Homo sapiens: one gene and its partners. The protein of the gene in region 6 purifies or fractionates together with the protein of the main gene of each other region. This does not show direct contact. Each region holds a gene or a part of one and is shown on either strand. Other genes may lie near its edges.

Region 1 (3,500 bases), on a different chromosome or scaffold from region 6:
GTGTGTGTGTGTGTGTGTGTGTAACAATGCACATTTACCCATATGCAAAGAATACATCTGGAAAGTGACCAGGGAAACAAAGTGTAGCCTCCAGACTATGAGACTGAAGCCACAGGTGGGAGGGAGGACGGAGGAGAAGTTTACTTTCACTCATCCTCTTTTATACTGTTGTAGGGGGAGGGGCGGTTACTCTGTACCTACAAATTCAATACTAAAAACAAGCTCACGTTTTATTGAAAAAAAAAGAAGACCCATGCTGTTTGGCCTCCAAGGGGCCAAAATTCTCTTGCATGCCTTCTATTTCTAAAAACAAAGCTGCCACAACAAAGGGTGTTGTTGGATTGAGTTCTGCTCTGCAAGGGGATTGGCCTCTGGAGCAGAGAGCATGGCATCTGCTCACTATCCCTGCTCAACCTCTGGCTTGCCAACTCTCCTCTCAGGCATTGAGGCTGAAGTCTTGGGACTGTGTATGAACATTCTGGGTCTCTTGTATCCAAGCATCCACTAAGCCTGCATGTGTCTACCCAGGAGCAAGAGTTAGCCCTCTCCCACTCTATAAGGCAAAGACTTACATTTCCCTGTGCAAGAGAATGGGATATAAAAGTTGGGATGCCTGACCCCTGGACCTTTATAATAGAGGCTGTTACATTTCTCAGACTTGCTTGCAACTTGGAATAGTCATGTGACATAATTCTAGCCAATCAGATGTAAGCAGAAGTCACTCAATGATACTTCTCCAGGTGTAGCTGGAAGACACCATTTTTCTCCTCTTCTCTTCCCTTTATTCATGCCTGAAATGTAGACATGATGACTGGAGCTCCAGCAGCCATCTTGAGATAACGAGGAAGAGGGTCACACCCTAGGAATGGTCAAGTGAGAGCCAAAAGGAACCTGGGACCCAGATGATTGCCAACCTCTGGCTCTCTTTTATGTAAGCAATAATAATAAATCTTTAATCGATTTAAACCACTTCTGTTTTTCAGGATTCTGTTAAAGAGTAGCTGAATACAACTCCTGATTGAACAGGCTGTGCAAAAGGAGAAGGAAGAGGAAGAGGCAGAGGAAGAACTGAGTCATCCCCAAGCTTGCTAATAAGCCTCAGAGTTGCCCAGTTTTATAGCTGACAATGGGTCACCCAGTAAGGTGGCACAGCAAGGATTAGATTCAGAATCCCTGGTATGCTCTCTGGGTTCAGCCTGATGGGTAAAAACTATAATACAAAACTATTATTCATAGGACCTTATCATTCCAACAGGCCCTATAGGGAAGGATGGACATTGGACTCTACTTCTCTACCCTGTTCTCCCACTGCACACATGAAGACACAAAAGTATACACACATGCAGATGCATGTGGAGCACACATGCTCACATCTTCACATATGTACTCCTGCTTTTAATCTGCTAAGAGGTCCTGACCCCACCTCTGCCCAAGACCTTTCTCCATCACCTCCACAAGACCAGGTCTTACCATGAGTTGTCTGGCAAAGGCACTAAATAAGAGGCAAAATAAGTATCAGGAGGGGCAGTGAAGTGTTTGCTGAGTCCCTGTAGGGACTGGAGCACTTATGGTATGCTTCATATTTTGGCACTGAGTTATACATTGACTGTTTTTCATATTCCTGGACACATATCAGTCTTATCACCTATACAGCCAATAGTCACCCCAAGGGGGGATTGGGTTTTCTAAAGCAGTGGTTCCCAAATGTCCACCCATGTACCACTTGCATCAGAATCATTTGGAACATTTGCCAAATTTTTATTCTCAGGCCCCACTTCAGGGCAATGGAATCAGACTTTCTACTGGCAAGACCATGGTATCTGTATTTTTTCCTAAGATCACCAAATGATTCCTGTAGTAGAGCTTTTTAGGGCTTGCGTATTCTAATTTTTCTTTCCTCCTAACCAAAGAAGACCACAGTGATTCTGCTTTTGCAAGTTAGATGGGCCATAGTGTTCTGGCAAATTGGCTGTGAGTGGAAATGCCACGTGTCACTTCTGGGTGGGGGCATTTAATTATTATTGCAAGACCCTCTCTTCCTCTGCTGCAGGAGGAGCCTCCTGCTCAGACAGTGAAGAGAACCCATAGCTTCCTCCTTGTCCCAGGACTTCTTCCCCTGCACTGACTCCACATCAAGAGTAGGACAGGGTTGACCCATGAAGGTGCCCTAGGAAGATACTTCACACAAAACAAAAACTATAGTAACTATTTGATAAAAATTTGTTGAGGCTGGGTGTGGTGGCTCATGCCTAATCCCAGCATTTTGGGAGGCCAAGGTGGGAGGATCACTTGAGGCTAGGAGTTTAAGACTAGCCTGGGCAATACAGTGAGATCCTATACTTTTTTAACTAATAGGAAAAAAAGCTTGAAAGTAAAAAAAGAAGTGGGAAGGGATAGAAATAAGAGAAAGTAGTTTGTTTTAGTGTCTACACAGCAAACCACCCATTGAGAACATATTATGCATTTGTAATAGTAGAACAGAAACTCCAGCTCCTTTGAGTTCTATAAAATGCAAATTTGCCCAAGAAACAAAGTAAGGAAGTAACTTCAAGGGAGCCATCCCCATGAAGCAACCTCCAATTTAAATGGAGTATATTTGTTAGAATGTTGCATTGGTGAGCCATCTGTTGTTTATCACGTAGCCATGGCGAGGGGCTGAGCAATCACTATTCCTCAAGAACATTTTCAATCTGCATTCTAACATCTTGACTCAAGCTAAGGAGGTGTCTACTTCCTGCTGCAAAAGAATCCAGTGGGGCCAGGAAGGTTAACATTAACAACTGCCTTAAAGACAAGATGGGGACTTGGAACATTACATTGCCAGTGCCTGGGGCCAATCCTGTGGATGGAGATATCTTCCAAAAGCAGAGGAGATTAATCATTATCAGAACAAACCTGCCCTTGGGAATCCCCTACACAGTACAGAGTTGGACTTCCAGGTTAGATTCTCAGGAGTTCGTAGCTTGCAGGGATATAAACCACCCAGCAATCCCATGACCTCTGCATCTTTTAGAGGGATGTTTTCTGATAGCTTCCTTGGAGCAATTGCTGATCATCTACTATGTCTGGGACATAAAACTAGAAACTGGGGCCAAGATGTATTAATCTCAGTCCCTGCATGCAAGAGTTTTACCATCTAGTTGGGAAGCAAAACATGCATTTGACAGTAAACACAGTTTTACAATGTTAACTGCCAACTCTACTGTCCAGAGCCCACATGTCTGTGTAGAGGGCAGGGAAATATAAGATGAAGATAAACTGCAAAATAATGTTAGCAGAGAGTGTGGTCAGATCCAACATGTGAGATCATAAGAGTCACAATAAGGACAAGAAATATTGTTTGAGCTTGAGAAGGAACGTTCTTCACCAAGGAGAAAAAAAGATGAGATTGAGACAAATGTCACTTGGAAAAAGGAAGGGTGGAGACGGAGATTGCACATTCAGTTTGGTGAAGCTGCACCCTCCCTATTAGATTAATAATTTTTAATACCATCTGGATG
Region 2 (3,500 bases), on a different chromosome or scaffold from region 6:
CATAAAAACACAATATTAAAGTTTGCCACATTGTAGCTGTTACATGATTTAAAAGTACTAACTTTCATAAAAGCATGATAACGAACTTTTTTATTTAAAAACAGATATATCATAGGGCATGATGCAGGCAGCTGGTTAAAAATTGATTCAAGAACTGGTGAGATACAATTTTCTAGAGAATTTGATAAGAAGTCAAAATATATTATCAATGGGATATACACAGCAGAGATCCTGGCTATAGATGGTAAGAAAATTTATTTTCAGTATTTTAAGAAAACTAGTACTATTATATTAAATATTATGTTATTCTAATGCTGATATTTGAGTGACTCAGACATTTTTAATGGTGTATGCAAGACTTATGGAAAGCCCTAAACACCTTAAATCAAGAATTGAAGTCAATTAAAATCATAATTTACACTGAAGCCATAGTTTATTTCATCTACTTCCAAAACTGAGTTGTATATGGCTTACAGCATAAAAGTTAAAATATAATTCATCTTCTGATTATGACTTTGTCTCTTGAGTATGGCTAATCTCACTTGTAGGGTATGTTGGGAATGTTTACTTAAAGTAAGGGCTACGTGCTCTACAAAGTTCATTTGGGGATCACCTTGTGGGAAAGCAATGTCTCCAAGAATACAATTATTTTAGATCCATTAAAACTGAACTACAGTGAGAAGCTTGTGTGAGTGTTGCTTGATTAGACATATTTCCATAGTAAGATGCTATGGACCAAGAAAGCACAGATTATTCCAAATATAAGATCCATATTAAAAGTCATAAATACAGATGCACTGACTTAACTTGTAAGCGAGCCACCTCTCACATGGGTAAATCTGTTAAGCAGTCCTCTTGGTGAGCAGCAACAGGATTTGTTTATTTATCAATAGTTAATGATTCTATGAAGCAGTGCCTAGGAAACCAGCTGCTGTAGAACCAAACAAGAGACAAAGGTCAGGAACCACGAAGGAAGGGGAAAGACAGGCGTCCAAGATACATGCCTAATGTAAGACAGATACTGTAGGTTTGCATTGAGTTTATAGCTGACCTTTCCAGTATCAAAACAAAAATAAAGATAAAGAAGCAGCATAAAATTCAAAAAGAAACCATGATAAAACCAAACCAACTATCATCTGTACATCCTGGGCTTCATCCTGTGGCGGGTAAATTTTAACGCCTGGGTCAGTTTTATAAATAACATTGTCTTATTCATTATCAGTATTCTGGAAGCTCTAATTTGAAAATGGATTCTAACCATGTTGATTGCACCCTATGTTTGCATATTGGTCATATGTGAAAAATCTTCAAATGCTAGAATAAATAATTAGTCATTCCAAGCAAATAAAGAGAGAGAAAGTGCTGTCAAAATGTACCAAGAGAAACCCAGAAACAAAGCTGATTGTTTATTCACCTAAGCAGAGTGTCTGCACTGGCACAGAGCTATCTGAATGGTTGGAATAAGTTTGCTTCAGCACACACCATCATCAGGTGAAGAGACAGACCTCTATGCAGAGCAAACTTTACTGGGAAGCAAACACTATAAGCAATAGCTTGAGCTTTGGTTGCCAATCACAAGGTAATAGAAGAGCTACCAAAGATCAAAGAATGACAAATAAAACAATCTGTGGAATAATCTGATGCCTCTCGAATGAGAAGCTAAGTGAAATCGACATCCTTCATCTAGTAAAAACAAGTCCAATGCTGAATAGGGTATATAAACATATTATACAAAATCATATAGACTATAGGTAGGCTCTCAGTTTATTCTCATTCAGTTACCTCAATGACTACTACTTAGGCACACAGAAAACATCTGTAAAAGGAATTTATTGCTTTCTCAGAAAAGGACCTAGTAAGGTACCCCAGAGACGACAACGTTCTAGTTTAAAAGCGAGAAAGCTAAGATTCTTTTCAAGTTAAAAAGAAGCAAAAAAAATTCCGTATTCGCTGTAACAGAACATAGAGTAGAAAAGTGGACTAAAAAGCTCCTGGACTCCTAATCTTTAGTCTTTGGCCCTTTCTGATTAATTATACTATCCAAAAACTTGTTTCAAGTGGATTAGGGAAAAATCTAATAGACTTATATTTGTTTTCAGAAATGCCATTTCAGAAAGAAATAGCATGTAACAGATGCAATTAAAATAAACAGTGAGCACACAAGAAAAACACAAACAAGTATTTATTTCAGCTGTGGTTATTTCTACAAACACAGGACTCAGTGAGCATCCTGAATGGAGGTTCATAACTGACCTGGGGGTCTAATTTATGGGAACAGGGTGAGATTAGAAACCAGTAAACCTTCTCGGAGGAAGAACATTTGATTTTGCGCCTTAGGATGTGTCAGAATTAGCAAAATGAAATGAGGGTGGAAAACATTTTAGGAAGGGTGAAAAGAATGTGCCAGAGTCCAGAGTAAAAAAGAAACTTGTTTAAAGAACTCAAAAGAAGCAGTGTGGCTGGAAGGTAGCACACAAAGGGAAGAGTGACTTTGGGTCACTGAAGCGGGCAGGAACCTGTCAAGCCTCCCAAGTCACGTATATGTTTCCTACAAGTTCCATGGCATCATCAGGGGATATGAGAAAGAGTTTTCTCCCTAACACCATTTACCTCAACACCAATGACCCTTACTCTTTCAGATGGCTCTGGAAAAACAGCTACAGGAACCATATGTATTGAGGTTCCTGATATCAATGATTATTGTCCAAACATTTTTCCTGAAAGAAGAACCATCTGCATTGACTCTCCATCAGTCCTTATCTCTGTTAATGAACATTCTTATGGGTCTCCGTTTACTTTCTGTGTTGTTGATGAGCCACCAGGAATAGCTGACATGTGGGATGTCAGATCAACAAATGGTAAGTGAAACGTAAGCTTGTTTTTTGGACTTTAAGTCCAAAAGCAAAACAATTACCAAAAAATGTGGCAAGTCACTTAATAAAACATTCTACTTCTGTTTCCACAGTTCTTGCCATATTAACATTAAATGAAAAAAATATTTCATGTACACAGAGGATATTTGATAAAATTTTGAACTGAAATGAAATGAGTCAAAATGTTTCATTAATATTTAATTTACAAATAGTAGTGGATAAATACCAGTTTACCCATCATTTTGAGTAGGTAAAACGTTGAACCAATATTTATTCAGTTTAAAATAAACAGAACCCTTAACAAACTCATAAATTAAGAATGTCACAATTCCCTATTCTGAATAAATTCAGACAAATCACATAAATGTCTCTGAAACTCATATATCCCATAGATACATTTAAACATTTACTACTCACTTAGGAGCACATAAAATCAATTAAATTGTTTTTTACAGTAACTATGAGTTCAGACTTATTTTTAAGGGTAAAAATTTAAATCCAAATTGCTCAGTATTAGAGGAATGATTAAACAGAGTACATATTATTAAGATGTGTTAATATACAGCCATTAAAATTAGAATTATGCAAAGTATGTAGATACAAAAGAATGCATAAACCAAAGAAAGT
Region 3 (3,500 bases), on a different chromosome or scaffold from region 6:
CCCGATCACTGTCTCCATGTTGCTGCCGTTCAGGTCTGCTCGCCTTGGGGAGAGCCCAGTGTTGGATGAGCAACCAGACTGACCCAGAATAGAGTAGAACTTTAACCCATGTTCCCATAACTGGACCCCACTGAACTGTAAGCTCCACAGGGATAGAGACCAGGTATCTATGAGTACATTCCTCAGCACCCAGCATGATAGATGTTCAATAAAATAATTGCAGAATGAAGGAACCAGTTCTTAGGAGGACACAGTATTTCCTGCTAACTGGACATAGTGGCGGTTGCCAGGGGATGTCTTGCTAGAAGACAAGTTTATCATTCCCCACATACCTTTGGGAAGAGACAAGGATTGCTAGGTGGTGATGATAAGAAACGCAGATTTGTCAAAACCAACCTGTGCATTTTTTAAAAGTTAAAAACAATTTTAAATACAAGTAGATATGAGGTTTCATTATGTTGCCTAGGCTGGTCTTGAACTCCTGGGCTCAAGCAATCTTCCCGCCTTGGCCTCCCAAAGTGCTGGGATTATAGGCGCGAGCTACCACGCCAGACCCTAATTGTGCACTTTTGCAAAGGCCCTATGGGCAGGAGGGAACTCTACCTCAGAATGGGGAGCATGTCACTGTCACCTAGGGGACTTCCCTAAACTGTATATGCCTACCTGTCCCCAGTTTGAGATTCTAATACATCCCTTGGGGAGAGCAAAGGGGAATGTTCCCTGTTCCTCCATGTGAGAATATCTGCCATGGTAAACCACTCTTACTGGTGGCAGGACATCATATTCCTAAGCTGTGTTAGGGCCACAAATTTAAAGACTAAAAATAAAACAACGAAAAAATAAAAAACAACAGCTTTGTAAACCACCATAAGACTTGGCATTTGATTGGGGCTCCTTTACTGCAATACAGATACTGGTTATATGGCCTACTCATCAGTAAGTCCTAGGGGATTCTTGGAGCTCCCTCAGGGCACAATGGTAGATGTGAAAGTCTCCAGGTCCCCTGACTTTACCTGTTTTTTTTGTTGTTGTTGTTTGTTTTACATACTAGGCTTCCATATAATCTCTAAACAAATGAAAGTTTGAAACTCTGCTGTAAGTGACAACACTACAAAGTGAACAAGTCAGGATTAAAACTCACTATCCAAAGTGCCAAATCACTCATCCATTTAGTGGTCAGAACACAACCTCACCCATGGGCGACCAGAAGCAAATCTGTGTCTTCTGGAGGTTTCAGTGTTGCTCATACCTGATAACATCCAGGAACACATCTGTGTAATAGACCTTTCCATCCACGCTGTCATAGTCCAGGGAGATGACATTGTTGAGCTCAGGAACAGGGACATGCACATCGGTGTGGTCACTGGTGTCCAGTGAGATACGCCGGATGGAGCCACGGCTGGAGAAGAGCAGGTAGGTCTCAGGAGAGGGATCACAGGTCTTCCCATCTCCCTTCAGCTGGATGCCAGTGGGGCAGGCACAGGAGAAGCCAGAAGGCCGAGGCAAGCAGAGGTGGGAGCAGCCGCCATTTCTCGAGCCGCACTTGTTAAAACCTGGTGATGAGAAGCACAAGTATTCACACCTAGCCTGGAACATCATCTGAATCTTACAAAGGTCCCAGTTGTTTGTGGCTGGCTCTTTGCTGTTCTAAGTGACAGGATTCAGTGCCTGGCAGGGTGAGGTAGAAGGAGGGTCTGCAGGAGGATCTCCAGGAGTCCTTTGAAGGTGACAGCTGTAGTACCAGCCATACCCAGAGAGAACACAGCCCAATCTGGAAGGGAGCTTAAACAGGTCACCGTCTTTCTGGCTGTAAAGGAGCTCTGTGCTCTGGATATATCTCTGATGTTGAGATGGCCCCAGAAAGCCAGAGGCTCTGACTCACAGCCCCAGCCCTCTGACTCTCACCTAGTGGCTGTGCCCGGTCCACAGCCTGCATGTCCATGAGGCCTGGCAGGTTGGACCTCACGAGGATGACATTGCTGCCAGTACCCTTGTCAGCACGGTGGATGCTCCGAGTCTGCCAGTCAGTCCAGTAGATATAGGAGTCGAGCAGGGTGAGGCCATATGGGTGCTGCACCGGTGACACCAATGTATGCCGATTGGCACCATTCAGGTCAGCAGCCTCAATTCGCTGCAGAGGAAGGAGAGGGTGGGGGGTGGTGATCAGCAGATTGGGAACTCTCCATGGAGATCCTAGGCAGGCCTTTCCCATCTTCCCAGGCTCCTGGGAAGCAGCAGGGACACGGCTCTCACCTCGGTGTGGGCATCGGCCCATAGCAGTTGGGAGCTGGCCTTGTCCACAGTCAGTCCATTGGGCCATCCTAGGTTGTTGTTGATGAGCACCGCGCGGTCTGAGCCATCCATTCCGGACCGCTCTAACTTGGCATTCTCCCCCCAGTCTGTCCAGTACATAAACCTGAGTGAGGAAGAATATTAGCTATATTAGCTAGTTATTCCAGCAGCTACCACATACCATGAATACTTAACAGTATGTCAGATACACTTGAGTACTTACAGTATGTCAGGCAAAATTTTTGCTTGACAAAGTACTTTGCAAAATACTTCATGTGCATTATCTCAACCTTCATAAGGGCCACAAGGTATGTATTTTCACTACCACCTCCATTTAATAGGTAAGGAAGCTGAGAATTAGAGAGGTTAAATACCGGACCCAAGTGATATAGCTAATACATGATGAAAACATTTCAATCCTGGTATTCTGATTCAAGGCTCATGCTTTTAACTTCTACACTGTACTGTCACCCTGCGAGAAGTCACAAGAGAGTGGAAGAGCCCCAGGGAGGTCACCTTGTTTCTGTGATGCAAGCTTCCTCTCCACTACCCACCTTTACCCCGTCATAACCCCAGCTGAGCTGGCCCCCCACACTACCCAGTGCGATACAGCCAGCTCTCACCCCATCTCATGGTACAGTACGATGGCCCGGGGACTGTCAAGGTTCTGCCACACCAACACTTTCCGCATGGACCCGTCCAGGTTGCCCACTTCAATCCGGTTTGTTCCCGTGTCTGTCCAGTATACTTTCCGGCCAATGGCATCAACCGCGAGCCCATCTGTGGTCTGTAGCCCTGTGGGAAGTCAAAAGAGCACACTGGCTCCTATTTTAAAACAGATGGGCTATTTCCCCAGCCCTGTTGCCAGACAGGTGGTCCCTGGGCTAGGAGGAAGGCCCACCTGTGGTGATGATGTCCTCATGCTGTGAGCCATCCAGATTGGCACGACTGATCCTGTGCAGTGTGCTGTCAGACCAGTACACCTTTCCTGGAGAGGGAAAGCTTGGCTCAACCTAGACCCTCACCGCCTACAATGGGACACACACAGCTGATTCATGTCTTGAAACACCAGAGCATGTCAGAGAGCTCTGGAGCCTCTAGCAGAGGAAATCAAGGAAAACGCAGAAATATCATAGCAGGATAGCTCTTGGCAGAGACGGAGAGAAGAGGGCCCCAAACCATGCTCTCACAACCAAAGAGAGAGTGCT
Region 4 (3,500 bases), on a different chromosome or scaffold from region 6:
GTGCAGTGGGAAGCGGAGATGGGGGACCCTGTGGCCCCAGAGGGAATGAGGGAGGGCCTTGCTTTTTGACCTCTTCCAGTGCCTTGTGAGGTCTGAGGCCATCTCCTGATCTTGGGTTCCCTGCCCTCTGGAATCCTGTTAGTAAATATCCCTCTTTTGTGGGGTGTTGTTTTTTTTTTTTTTTTGAGATGGAGTCTTGCTCTGCCACTGAGGCTGGACTGCAGCGGCACCATCTCGGCTCACTGCAACCTCCGCCTCTTGGGTCCAAGAGATTCTCCTGGCTCAGCCTCCTGAGTAGCTGGGACTACAGCCGTGCACCACCACACCTGGCTAATTTTTGTATTTTTAGTAGAGACGGGGTTTCGCTATGTTGGCCAGGCAGGTCTCAAACTCCTGACCTCAGGTGATCTGCCTGCCTCGGCCTCCCAAAGTGTTGGGGTTACAGGTGTGAGCCACCGCGCCCAGACCCCTCTTTCGTTTTAAAGAAAAGAATAAGGCCAAGCAGGCTAAGGGCACAGCCAGGCAGAGGAACAAAAAGCTAGGGGTCGATGGTGGCAGGCCCAGGAGGGGAGTGGGTGATACAAAAGGAGCAAGGACATGGTGCAGTTCACCTCTGCATGTCCTTCATCCAGCATGGACCCATGAGTGCCCCTGATCACTGTGTCCTGAACCGAACACCGACAGGCTCTCTGGGCATCTCAGCCTCCCTAGCTCCATCCCCGCCACCAGGATGATCCAGCCACTCACCTGCCACACAGATGTCAAAGTAGTCACCAAACTCACTTCGGATGTGCTTCACCAGGTCCACTGCGTAGTTGAAGCCTCCCTCCTCCTCTTCCCACTGGTCACCTATTGGGTCTGCAGGGTTGGTGGAGGTCATAGTCACTGGGTCTCACCCAACCTCCAGAGACCCTTTCTGTTCCCTCTACCTAGCCCCGACACCCAGGACTGCGAGTCCCTGGAAGGCAGAAACTTCATATTATTTAGGTTTGGTTCGTCTCTTTCTAGCACTTGGTAAGACAGCAGGAGGGAAAAAAGCAGCCCACCAGTTCAATATTCACTGCATGCTGACCCTGTGCTGGCGGTGGAGAATAGGAGACCACCGCTGCTTCTCACCGTGCCTGGAGGATTGGAGAGCCCTTCCCTACTTCTACCTGGGCATGCCTGCCACCCTCTCCCATCCCACGGCCTTGGGGCTCCTGCCTCCTGGGAGAATTTTCTACTCATCTCAAGTGAAGGGGTCTTGTGGTAGGGAGCACGAGGCCATAGGATCCCACCCATCAGGCTCCCTCTTCCCACTCTTAGGTGGCCTGACAACAGCGGGCACCAGAGGCCTGACCGGCTATTCTCACTCCTGGATACTCTGTTACTCTGTGATTGGGCCAAGTGCTGGGTGCAGCCAGCAATCGATGCAGTGGTGTAGGCAAGGCAGAGGGTTATCAGGCCGCGACTGCATTCCTGACGGAACTCCTATGTCGAGGTCAAGAGGTGGAAGAGGTGGCTGCCTGTGTGTGGTGCCCAGGATGACTCACTACCCACAATGCCTACTGACACTACTGGCGGGGATGGGATCCTGCGGATCCTCAGCGTGGGGCCCAGGAAGAAGTAAAGGACCATTTCAGGAACCAAGTTCAGGCTACCAAGTGGCCTCCGGGAAAGCCAGAACCCAGAGTGTAGGGGAGTGCTGGCTCCACACCTCCCCGCAGCGCCATGATGTTCTTCAGGCCCAGCTGCTTAGCTTTGTGCAGATGGCCCGTGATCTCCTCCAGGCGCTGACGGCAGCAGGTCATGTGCAGGATGGTCTCCAGGCCACAGTAGTTCACGGCGGTGCTGGCGATCATCATGGAGGAGGTCTCCTTGTCTGAGCCAGGGTCACCTGCTGGGTGCCAGGTCACGTCTATGTAGAGGGGGCCACCTGCTGCCATCCGGTCAAACCTGTAGGGGGTTTGTTTCTGAAGAGAGGTTCCAGGAGAAATACCATCCGTCACTGCCTTCCCATGGGGCCCGGGAGTTAGAGAAGCATCAATGAAGGTTGGAGACAGACCAATCAGCGTTCATATCCTGGCTTTGCTACTTATAGCTGTGTGATCTTGGGTACATTACTTAATCTCTGTGAGTTCTGTTTCCTTATTTATAAGACACGGCAGATAGTAGTACCCACTTCATAATAACACTAGGATGCTGGGCGTGGTGGCTCACGCCTGTAATCCCAGCACTTCAGGAGGCTGAAGTGAGTGGATCACTTGAGGTCAGGAGTTCCAGACCGCCTGGCCAACATAGTGAAACCTCATCTCTACTAAAAATACAAAAATTAGCTGGGTGTGGTGGTGGGCACCTGTAATCCCAGCTACTTGAGAGGCTGAGGCAGGAGAATTGCTTGAGCCAGGAGGCAGAGGTTGCAATGAGCCAAGATCACACCACTGCACTCCAGCCTGGGCCACAGAATGAGACTCTGTCTCAAAAAAAAAAAAAAAAAAAAAAAAGCAACAACAACAACAAAAAACCATAACACTAGGAGAATATGACGGCAGCTGGTTCCACAGAACTTAGAACAGTGCCTGGTGTACAAACCGAATACTCAGTATATGTGAGGTGCCGTTATAATCACTATTACAGAGGTAAGACACAACAACAGCGCTATCATTTTGTGTGAGAGCAGCACTTCAGACTTTTCACAGCGCTTGCCTGTTTATTATCTCAGGTGAGTTAAGACATCATGATTGAGAGTTAGGGGAATCCTAACTGTGGCAAGCACAGCCTCGCTGTAGGAACAGTTAGAAAGAGGGTCAGCAGACTCACTTTCTTTCATGCCACCCCCCAAGCCCTGTGCAGCAGCTTACAGTTATGCAGACCAAGGCCAAGTTCCGAAACGAGACTCAAAAAAAAGCCTGGATGTGCACGAGTACTTGTGTTACAAGCTATCAACGGTGTATTTAAACATCCTTGTGCATTTAAACTTCAAAAACTTGGGAGTGACACGTGAGACGTGCATACAGTAAAAGGCATAAACTTAAAAAAAAAACTGCAATTCATGAAGTGCTAATGTAATTCAGTTGGCATTTCTAGAGTTCAAGAAGCATAATCCAAATTTCTAACTTGCTGAAAACAATCTCACTGCTTTGTGACTTCCTAAACTGCACTCGTGATCCAGCCCCCAAGTTCCCTCAAAGAATACAGTGTGAGAATCAACATTTTTAACCCATTGAAGAGTGTGTCTAAAATACCTTGACACTGTGGAGGGACTTTTACAGGCAACAGAGAAGTTGCAGATCAGATGACCCACTCTGCCTTCTCCTTCCTGCCCCCTCCGGCTGCTTTTTTCTGCCGGGTTAAAGGGCAGCCCAGCCTCAGGGCTGACAGTTTGCTCCCCAGGCACCACCACTCCCGCCTCCCACCTTAACCTTGCATGAGTTTACCTTGAGATGAGATTGACAGCTCCCTCAGCAGTTCGAGGAGGGAAGAATTCCAGGGAGAACCACTTGTCACCAGATTCCAATCGC
Region 5 (3,500 bases), on a different chromosome or scaffold from region 6:
ACCAAGAATGGTGTGCAGCCGCAGCAGCAGGGACAGGCAGGTGACCCCCACAGAGCTTCACATGGCGAAGAGGATAAGGAAGGCGACCATCAAACAGAAGAGCCCCATGGCCTCAGACAGGGCAAAGCCCAGAATCGCATAGGAGAAGAGCTGCTGCTTGAGAGATGGGTTCCTGGAATAACCAATGATCAAGCTGCCAAACGCTATTCCAATGCTAGCCCCTGAACCAACCACACCAACTGTGTCTGCCTCAGCACCAATAAACTTGGCTGCGGTGTCAATGTCCCAGGAGACAACCTGGTCTAGAACTCCTGTCTGGCCACACCTAAAGTGGGGAGCTGCTGTAGGAAGGCTGTTTAGATGAATGCTCTGGGCTATTCAAGAAGGAGGCAGACACAGGCCGGATTAGACCCCTAGTACAACAGCGGATCAGAGCTGGAGAAATAAGTAATGCCCCGGTGGGCTGCATTTTCTCAGTCTCCCAACTTTAGCCCTTGGTCTCTCCCTGCTCTTCTTAAAGGGAGCCCATGGAAGGGTCTGATCGTTCAGGTCTTTTATGTCCAAGCACTGCCCAGGCCTTTTCTTCTCTTTGCTCCTATTAACACCTGGCCTCCTGTCTCTGCTCCAGAGATGACTGATTTCCTGAAGGAAAATTAATTCACGCTAAGTTGTAAAAGACTGACAGTAATGTTGTATAACCTATTGACATATACCTCCCATGGGATATTTGCCTGTTAACTAAATCTCTTTGGGGAGAAATTTCAAACTTCATATCAAGCCTGCAAGGATAATACTCCAGTAAACTTGCATCTGGTATCTTCAAATACTAAGCTGAACCTTCCCCAATACCTCTCTCCAGCAGAGCTAAACGTTATTTATTTTACTTTTGTATATACCTCTATTTTAACACTTGCCACAGTGTTAGAAATATTATCTAGTGATTGTCTTTCCACTTCCCACCCCAACTAGAATACAGTCAAGGCAGAAACTAAGTCTCATTTTCTACCCCAGCTTGTAGTTTCTCACTGAATATTTGGCTGATAAATAATGGAAGACTTCAACTCTATGTGTAACCAAAAACAGAATTATAGGAAAACATACTACTTTGGAGGTTAACAGATAATTCTTCCCTTTATTTCTCCTAAAGAGGATATTGTCTTAAAATATATTCCTCCTAAAGAAATTTGTCTAAAAATCTCCAACAGGTTAGACTGCTCATAGTTTCTGAATGTGCACATAGTTGTGGCCTCCAAAAACTGTCATCAATTTCACTTATCGGCACTGACTACAGGTACTTTATTTTCTGAAACACATGTTGAGACGACATATCTTCTGAAAAGAGGACCAAATAAAGACTATCTACCCCAGAAAATATAATACAACATATATACTAATATAGATATATATGGATAGATATCTTTATCAGAATAAGTACTATACTAAACTTTTAATGATATAACTTCACCAATTTAGTCTAACCCTTACCGGAGACACCACGGGGCATAAGAAAAGGTTTAGTAATGTCACTCAAAAAGTTCTAGGGTGGACAAAGCAATTCAAAGAAAACAAAGGAGAAGTAATAGCATCTGCATTCAAAAGAAGGGTGTAGCCTCATGCAGCTGTGAATAGCATTTTATTGCTTTATCAAGTGAAACACTGAGAGATCAATGACATTTCAAACTTTTATTAATTCTGTTCATAAAGGCTGAGTTTCCAGGATCTTATATAACCCAGCTTTATGATTTAATAGCAAGAATAAAGGAATAGCACACATTCTTCCTCCCTTCTCAAAAAACACACGTTAATACTTTCTTAATGAAAAAAGTACGACCCTTAGTGTGGTTGACACAAAAGTCCACATTCTACTCATTGACTATTGCAACATTTTCATGGTGTTCCTTCCAGGCTGGCTCTGGGGTCTTGAAGAGAGGCACCATTGGCAACCTGTTTCAGATTTCACTTAAACAGAGTTAGGAACCCTTTGCCAGCCCTTGCTATGGAGGAGAGCCAATCACTAATCAAAGGAGCCAGAAGGGTCACTCTATGACAGCAAAGGCTGTGTGGATGCCGTCAGGGCCAGTGGGGCCAACACCCCTCCCTAACTCACAGTAGAGGCTGGGTAAAGTCACGTTCCACTTCCACTCCAGATAAAAGACAATACTGAGAAGGTCAAAAAGCCATGCTTAAAACTCAAGGACCTGTGTGTGCAAAACACAAGAGTGTGAAGAGCATAAGCTATGTCTCTAGAATCTCAGACAGACCTCTTGTGTGCAGGGTCAATCCTGTCTCTGCAGTCAGCTTTGAGAAGACCACTGCAGTTGGGAAGCTAAACTCAGGAAGTTAGGAGGACCTCCTACCCATCCCTCAGCTCCCATGGATATTTTGAGTTGGTAAGGAGCAGTAACAGTCATCATTGTCTTCTCCCAGTGAAAATGCCCAATGGGTCTTGCATAGGAAACCATGGTAGTCCCAAAGGCCAGTCAGGTTTTGTCTGCTATTGATTGTTTAAGCAAACTGACCCTTAGGGACTGATCATTCATTCAGCAAATTTGCTGAGCACCTACTGATGTGTTAGGGACTTGGCCAGAAATTGTAGACACTGAGGTGAATAAGGCATTGTCCCTACCTTAAAAATCCCATGCGCTAGTAGGGGATCTATGTAAGTAAACAGATTTCACTGTGGAAAAGCAAATTCTGGCAGTGGACAGGGGAGAGTATGAATAAAAATTCCATGGGAACAAAGAAAGAAAGAGTAATGGAAGCCATCCGGCTAACCCAGGCATAGATTGTATCTTGCAGGGCTTTTCCTCATGGATGCTAGCATTAAGAAGGTGCTACTATATTTGGCAAAAACAAGATATTGATGCTAAGTACTCTAACTACTGGGAGAAGCATGAAAACTAGAACTGACGCGTAGGAGCTACAGGTAACTAAGCTACCTTCAAGTATTGTACTAACTGAAGTGCTGCTTCCAGTCTAACACAAGTCAGATCCCACCCACGGAGACCACATCACATCATCATATAGATGTCTGGGTTTTCCAATAAAATGGGTCAAATTTCCAGTCTCAGTTCCTTGATCTCATTTACAAAAGAGGTACTTTACCCATTTCTTTTTTTTTTTTTTTTTTTTTTTTGAGATGGAGTCTCACTTTGTCACCCAGGCTGGAGTGCAGTGGCACAATCTCAGCTCACTGCAACCTCTGCCTCCTGGGTTCAAGCCATTCTCCTGTCTCAGCCTCCTGAGCAGCTGGGATTACAGGCACATGCCACCATGCCCAGCTAATTTTTGTATTTTTAGTAGAGATGGGGTTTTACTATGTTGGTCAGGCTGGTCTCAAACTCCTGACCTCGTGATCTGCCTGCCTCGACTTCCCAAGGTGCTGGGATTACAGGCATGAGCCACTGTGCCCACCCTCTATTAATTATTTAACATATTTACTTCAACAGTATCAATGAGACTGGCCTGCAAAACAGGCCCTTAATTCTTCCCATAATGAC
Region 6 (3,500 bases):
AGTTTTTTTTCCCCCCAGTGGCACCTGGAAGCCCAGTGAGACAGAACCATTCACTCTCCTGGAAAGGGGGCTGAACCCAGGGAGCCACGTGGTCTCGCTCAGCAGATCCGACTCCCATGGAGCCCAGCAAGCTAAGATCTACTGGCTTGACATTCTCGATGCCAGCACAGCAGTCTGAAGTAGACCCAGGATGATGGAGCTTGGTGGGGGGAGGGGCGTCCACCATTACTGAGGCTTCAGGAGGCACTTTTCCCCCTGACAGTGCTAAGGAGGCCAGGAAGTTCGGACTGGGTGGAACTCACCACAGCGCTGCAAAGCAACTGTGGCCAGACTGCCTCTCTAGATTCCTCCTCACTGGGTAGGGCATCTCTGAAAGAAAGGCAACAGCCCCAGTCAGGGGCTTACAGATAAAACTCCCACCTCCCTGGGACAGAGCACCTGGGGGAACGGGTGGCTGTAGGCACAGTTTCTGCGGATTTAAACATTCCTGCCTGCCAGCTCTGAAGAGAGCAGTGGATTCTGACAAGGAGGATTCTTCCAGCACAGACCTGCTAAGAGACAGACTGCCTCCTCAAGTGGGTCCCTGACTCCCGTGCCTCCCGGATGGAGAGACCTCCCAGCAGGGGTCAACAGACATCTCATACAGGAGAGCTCTGGCTGGCATCAGGCTAGTGCCCCTCTGGGACAAAGCTTCCAGAGGAGGGAGCAGGCAGCAATCTTTGTTGTTCTGCAGCCTCCGCTGGTGATACCCAGGCAAATAGGGTCTGGAGTGGACCTCCAGCAAACTGCAGCAGACCTGCAGAAGAGGGGCCTGATTGTTAGAAGAAAAACTAAGAAACAGAAAGCAATAATATCAACATCAACAAAAAGGACCCCCACACAAAAACCCCATCCAAAGGTCATTAGCCTCAAAGATCAAAGGTAGATAAATCCACAAAGATGAGGAAAACCCAGCACAAAAATGCTGAAAATTCCAAAAACCAAAATGTCTTTTCTCCTCCAAATGATCACAACTCCTCTCCAGCAAGGGCACAAAACTAGACAAAGAATGAGTTTGATGAATTGACAGAAGTAGACTTCAGAAGATGGGTAATAACAAACTCCTCTGAGCTAAAGGAGCATGTTCTAACCAAATGCAAGGAAGCTAAGAACCTTGATAAAAGGTTACAGAAATGGCTAACTAGAATAACCAATTTAGAGAAGAACATAAATGACCTGATGGAGGTGAAAAACACAGCACGAGAACTTCGTGATGCATATACAAGTATCAATAGACAAATCAATCAAGCAGAAGAAAGGATATCAGAGATTGAAGATCAACTTACTGAAATAAGGTGTGAAAACAGGATTAGAGAAAAAAGAATGAAAAACAAAATGAACAAAGCCTCCAAGAAATATGGGACTATGTGAAAAGACCAAACCTACGATTGATTGGTGCACCTGAAAGTGACGGGGAGAATGGAACCAAGTTGGAAAACACACTTCAGGATATTATCCAGGAGAACTTCCCCAACCTAGCAAGACAGGCCAACTTTCAAATTCAGAAAATACAATGAACACCACTAAGATACTCCTGGAGAAGAGCAACCCCAAGACACATAATCATCAGATTCTCCAAGGTTGAAACGAAGGAAAAAATGTTAAGCACAGCCAGAGAGAAAGGTCAGATTACCTACAAAGGGAAGCTCATCAAACTAACAGAGGATCTCTCTGCAGAAACTCTACAAGCCAGAAGAGAGTGGGGGCCAATATTCAACATTCTTAAAGAAAAGAATTTTCAACTCAGAATTTTATATCCAGTCAAACTAAGTTTCATAAATGAAAGAGAAATAAAATCCTTTCCAGACAAGCAAATACTGAGGGATTTTTGTCACCACCAGGCCTGCCTTACAAGAGCTCCTGAAGGAAGCACTAAATATAGAAAGCAAAAACCAGTACCAGCCACTGCAGAAACACACCAAAATATAAAGATCAATGACACTATGAAGAAACTGCAACAACTAATGTGCAAAATAACCAACTAGCATCATGATGACAGGATCAACTTCACACATAATAATATTAACCTTCAATGTAAATGGTCTAAATGCTCCAATTAAAAGACATAGACTGGCAAATTGGATAAAGAGTCAAGACTCATCAGTATGCTGTATTCAGGAGACCCATCACACGTGAAAAGACACACATAGGCTCAAAATAAAGGAATGGAGGAATATTTACCAAGTGAATGGAAAGCCAAAAAAAGCAGGGGTTGCAATCCTAGCCTCTGAAAAAACGGACTTTAAACCAACAAAGATCAAAAAAGACAAACAAGGGCATTACATAATGGTAAAGGTATCAATGCAACAAGAAGAGCCAACTATCCTAAATAGATATGCACCCAATACAGGAGCACCCAGATTCATACAACAAACTCTTAGACACCTACAAAGAGACTTAGACTCCCACACAATAATAGTGGGAAACTTTAACATCCCACTGTCAATATTAGACAGATCAATGAGACAGAAAATTAACAAGGATATTCACAACTTGAACTCAGCTCTGGACCAAGTGGACCTAATAGAACTCTCCAACCCAAATCAACAGAATATACATTCTTCTCAGCACCACATAGCACTTATTCTAAAACCAACCACGTGATTGGAAGTAAAACACTCCTCAGCAAATGCAAAAGAACGGAAATCATAACGAATGGTCTTTCAGATCACAGTGCAATCAAATTAGAACTCAGGTTTAAGAAACTCACTCAAAACCACACAACTACATGGAAACTGAACAACCTGCTCCTGAATGACCGCTGGGTACATAACAAAATTAAGTCAGAAATAAAGAAGTTCTTTGAAACTAATGAGATCAAAGAATCAACGTACCAGCATCTCTGGGACACAGCTAATACAGTGTTAAGTGGGAAATTTATAGCACTAAATGCCCACATCAGAAAGCAGAAAAGATCTGAAATTGACACCCTAATATCACAATTAAAAGAACTAGAGAAGCAAGAGCAAACTCATTCAAAAGCTAGCAGAAGACAGGAAATAATTAAGATCAGAGCAGAACTGAAGGAGATAGACACATGAAAAACCCTTCAAAAAAATCAATGAATCCAGGAGCTGGTTTATTGAAAACATTAATAAAATATATAGACCACTAGCCAGACTAATAAAGAAGAAAAGAGAGAAGAATCAAATAGACACAATAAAAAATAATAAAGGGGGTATCACCAATGATCCTACAGAAATACAAACTACCATCAGAGAATAGTATAAACACCTCTATGCAAATAAACTAGAAAATCTAGAAGAAATGGATAAATTCCTGGACACACACATTCTCCCAAGACTAAACTAGGAAGAAGTCAAGTCTGTGAATAGACCAATAACAAGTTCTGAAATTGAGGCAGTAATTAATAGCCTACCAACCAAAAAAAGCCCAGGACCAGACAATTCACAGCCAAATTCTACCAGAGGTACAAATAGGAGCTGGTACCATTCCTTCTG
Region 7 (3,500 bases), on a different chromosome or scaffold from region 6:
TTATATTTTGCCTTTAAAACAGATATCATGAGAGTTGAAAGGGTGCACCATCAGAACTAATTATTTTAAAAACGAATTGCATTTGGGGACTGAATTAAGTACTTTATTCAAATTATTTTTGAATGACATTTGGTCACCCCTAGATTCACATTGAAGGCTGTTTATTATTAGAATATATGAGGAATTTATCTATAATAGTGTTTCACCTATTATATCCCTAAAATATATTTACAAAGACAGAAGCAGCAAAAAGGAAAGAGTATATATAACTTTGTTAGAGGAAGAAAAATCATTAAGCAAAGTGGGATAAATATAGCTGCAGTGTATGCTAGGAAAGACCCCTAATAAAATCTTCAGATTTATCTCCAATACAGGAAATGAGCTTCTGAAAAAGTATCTAAAATATAAAACTTACATACCTATTTTCCCACTAACATCCCCTATATTATTAATGAAGTATCCTTTGTTACAGGAAGGAGAAAAAAAAATTTATTTAACAAATATGACTATTTTATCCAGGTATAAAGTGCCCTAAATACCAATATTGCAAAAACATCCATTTATCATTTTTCACGTCTATGCCTTATGTGTGAAAACATTACTTAGAAGAGTCTCAAGAGATCTGTCATCATAAAAACTACCTTCTACTAAGTTTTTGACTTCTTTCTGAGTGAAAAGGAATGAAATTAATATTTACTATCTACTATGTGCTACAGACATTATTGCATTCAAACCAAAAAGATGAGTTTGAAACAGCCCCTCCCTCTGACACCATCAAAATTCTTTTAAAAGGAGGACATAACTGAATAGGAAAGAATTCTTAATCTGGGATCCATAAGTAGTATATTCATTCATTCATTCATTAGTTCATTCACTTATTCAACAAATTTTTACTGGGAAACTACCATAGGTCCAAGCACTATTCCAAGTACATGAAATACAGTAGTGAACAGATAGAAAACCCTACCCTCACAAAGGTTGTATTTTTAGTTCAGAGGAGAAAAATAATAAAGAAAACATCTGAAGTATTTTAAATAGTAAGTGCTTTGGATAACATAATGCACGCAAGGGGGAAAGGAGTGCTAGAGGCAGGAGAATTCTGATGTAAAGGGGTGATGAGGCAGGTCTGGCCCAGATGACATCTGAGTAGAGATTAACTGAGGGAATTGGCCTTGTGATCAAGGAAAAGAGCATTCCAAGTAGAGGGAACTCTACTTTTGTTTTTTACTCTTTATGTTGACAAAATATTACCTTTTATAATGGTGTTTCCTTTTTATAGTTGAAGCTAGGGTCAGAACCTTCAATCTGAAGCTTCAGAGCTTGTTTAAGGCTTAATTCTGTCTCTGAGGAAGGGTATCCCTCCAACACTTCCTGATGCCCTCTATCTTGCATTGTTCGTGGGACTGAAACCCTACCAAGAAAAACCTGGTTGCTCTGAAGATGATAATTTGGATTTGTCATTATTCCATTTCTCTTCTTCTGTTCCCCACTTTGTTGGTGAATAAGAAACTGCTGTTGAGATCGACCAATTTCCTGCTGAGCTGAAGGTATCATAATTTTGCATTGAGATTCTGCTGGCATTTGTTTAGGTGGTGCAGCAGTCCCGGATTTGGCTATAGGTCCTCTTCTATCAAACTGAGTCATTTCATATTCTAAAACCTTTGGCTGTGAAGAATTACTTTGTTTCGCTTTTTTCCCAGCTGATCCAGACTTGGCAGAATTTTCTGATTTCCCCCCTTTACTTGCTTTAGTTGACTTCAAACTGGGCTTTACTTGACTCCACTCAAATTCACTACTTGGTGAATTATGACTCTGTCCTAAGGACTGTGTTGTGGAAGATGGGGAAACAATTGACTGTCGACTTCTACTGCGTGGCAATGAATGCTGCTGAATTTGTTCTGTAAATGACAAGTTATGAAAGCTATCAATTGGCACTGTTTGAGCCGTTGCTGTAGATGAAGTAGTTCTCAAAGATGAATTTTTTGAGCTTTTCAGGGAATTATTTGACAGTGATGACTTCTGCCGGTCAACTGTAGAATCTGGAGATTCTGAAGGAGAACTAAAAGCATGAGTAGGCCCATTAGGTAAACCACGTAACGAAGGCTGCATATCCCCTCCACCAGTACTACCAGAGCTATTTGATTTAATTGTTAATGACTGCACTTTTGAAGACAATGACTGTAGAGGTTTTTGCTCCATTGTGTGAACAGGAGATGGGGAACAGCCATTCAAACTAGATGCACCATATTTTTCTAATAATTTAATTATCTGAGAATGTCCATTTTTGGCTGCAACACGCATAGCAGTGCGTCCAAATTGATCAGCATGGTTTGGATCAGCACCATGCTCTAATAAGACCTGAACAACATCAATGTGCCCTTCCTGGGCTGCAATACAGAGTGCAGTTGCACCTTGGTTACATGTATGGTCAACTACAGCACCATGCTCAATCAGAAGCTGAACCACTTTTACATGGCCCTGCCAGGCTGCAGACTGCAAAGCAGAGCGCTTTTCATTGTCTGCAGCATTGACGTCAGCATGGTATGCTATCAGGACCTGCACCATTTCCATATGGCCTTGCCAACAAGACACATGAAGTGCTGTCCTTCCTTCAGCATCACTTGCTTCTACGTTTGCACCATTTTCTAAAAAATATTCGGCCATTGTAAGCTGATTTTCTAAGGCCAAGATATAAAGTGTAGGCCGACCATCAGCATCTTTGCAGTTAACATCAGCACCATGGCTAAAAAGCAATTCAACAATGTCCCTGTGCCCTTCTAATGCAGCAACCCGCAGTGCATTTCTTCCATCATAACCTCTTTGATCAATGTTGGATTTGTTTTCCAGTAATATTTGAACACAATCATAATGACCCTCTTGTGAAGCTAATATGAAAGGGATTCGTCCATCATTGTCAATCTCATTTGTTCTAGCACCTTGTTCAATAAGTGCTTCACATATCAATCTGTGCCCTTCAAAAGCTGCCATGTGCAAAGGTGTCCATCCAGCATCATCTCTGTGATTTTCATCTAACCCTCTATCCAGTAGAGTACGTACCACCTCAACATTTCCTTGTGCTGAAGCTATACTGAGGACTGTCCTACCTTCACTATCAATACTATCCACAGCTGCACCCCAAAACAAAAGTGTATTTACAACTGATGCATGACCCATAGACGCTGCTGCTAAGAGGGGTGTACGGCCATTGTTATCTGTGTGATCTACATCTGCTCCCCCTTCTAGAAGCAAGTCAACCACATCAACATGTCCTTCATAGGCAGCTACCAGCAGTGGAGTCATGCCATCTTTATCACAATGATCTACTTCAGCACCTCGATCAATTAAAAGGCTAACAACTGATGCGTGCCCTTTACTTGCAGGCACACAAAGTGCAGCTACAGAGAGTGCAGTCCTGCCATCAACATCCTCATGATTTACTTCTGCTCCATGGTCCAGTAGGTGTTCCACAATCTCTCTATGTCCCATGTATGCTGCTGCTA

The links.
Region 1: the proteins of CXorf66 (region 6) and HEPHL1 purify together in Homo sapiens (affinity purification with mass spectrometry; one large-scale study listed by BioGRID and IntAct). This does not show direct contact.
Region 2: the proteins of CXorf66 (region 6) and DSG4 purify together in Homo sapiens (affinity purification with mass spectrometry; one large-scale study listed by BioGRID and IntAct). This does not show direct contact.
Region 3: the proteins of CXorf66 (region 6) and LRP4 purify together in Homo sapiens (affinity purification with mass spectrometry; one large-scale study listed by BioGRID and IntAct). This does not show direct contact.
Region 4: the proteins of CXorf66 (region 6) and MTHFR purify together in Homo sapiens (affinity purification with mass spectrometry; one large-scale study listed by BioGRID and IntAct). This does not show direct contact.
Region 5: the proteins of CXorf66 (region 6) and SERPINB5 purify together in Homo sapiens (affinity purification with mass spectrometry; one large-scale study listed by BioGRID and IntAct). This does not show direct contact.
Region 7: the proteins of CXorf66 (region 6) and ANKRD50 purify together in Homo sapiens (affinity purification with mass spectrometry; one large-scale study listed by BioGRID and IntAct). This does not show direct contact.

What each region holds. Positions count from the first base shown.
Region 1 is NC_000011.10:94,027,854-94,031,353, reverse strand, and holds part of HEPHL1 (ferroxidase HEPHL1 precursor), read right to left. Parts: intron 1-3,500. UniProt on the Homo sapiens protein: Is a copper-binding glycoprotein with ferroxidase activity. It oxidizes Fe(2+) to Fe(3+) without releasing radical oxygen species. May be involved in the regulation of intracellular iron content.
Region 2 is NC_000018.10:31,400,777-31,404,276, forward strand, and holds part of DSG4 (desmoglein-4 isoform 2 preproprotein), read left to right. Parts: intron 1-104; coding exon 105-244; intron 245-2,639; coding exon 2,640-2,858; intron 2,859-3,500.
Region 3 is NC_000011.10:46,873,551-46,877,050, forward strand, and holds part of LRP4 (low-density lipoprotein receptor-related protein 4 precursor), read right to left. Parts: intron 3,281-3,500; coding exon 3,194-3,280; intron 3,088-3,193; coding exon 2,916-3,087; intron 2,417-2,915; coding exon 2,254-2,416; intron 2,132-2,253; coding exon 1,906-2,131; intron 1,554-1,905; coding exon 1,250-1,553; intron 867-1,249; exon of another isoform or gene 44-866; coding exon 1-43. UniProt on the Homo sapiens protein: Mediates SOST-dependent inhibition of bone formation. Functions as a specific facilitator of SOST-mediated inhibition of Wnt signaling.
Region 4 is NC_000001.11:11,799,465-11,802,964, forward strand, and holds part of MTHFR (methylenetetrahydrofolate reductase (NADPH)), read right to left. Parts: coding exon 3,417-3,500; intron 1,953-3,416; exon of another isoform or gene 1,936-1,952; coding exon 1,697-1,935; intron 859-1,696; coding exon 748-858; intron 1-747. UniProt on the Homo sapiens protein: Catalyzes the conversion of 5,10-methylenetetrahydrofolate to 5-methyltetrahydrofolate, a cosubstrate for homocysteine remethylation to methionine. Represents a key regulatory connection between the folate and methionine cycles.
Region 5 is NC_000018.10:63,493,958-63,497,457, reverse strand, and holds part of SERPINB5 (serpin B5), read right to left. Parts: intron 517-3,500; exon of another isoform or gene 1-516. UniProt on the Homo sapiens protein: Tumor suppressor. It blocks the growth, invasion, and metastatic properties of mammary tumors.
Region 6 is NC_000023.11:139,959,022-139,962,521, forward strand, and holds part of CXorf66 (uncharacterized protein CXorf66 precursor), read right to left. Parts: intron 1-3,500.
Region 7 is NC_000004.12:124,667,733-124,671,232, forward strand, and holds part of ANKRD50 (ankyrin repeat domain-containing protein 50), read right to left. Parts: coding exon 1,255-3,500; 3' UTR 1,252-1,254; intron 1-1,251.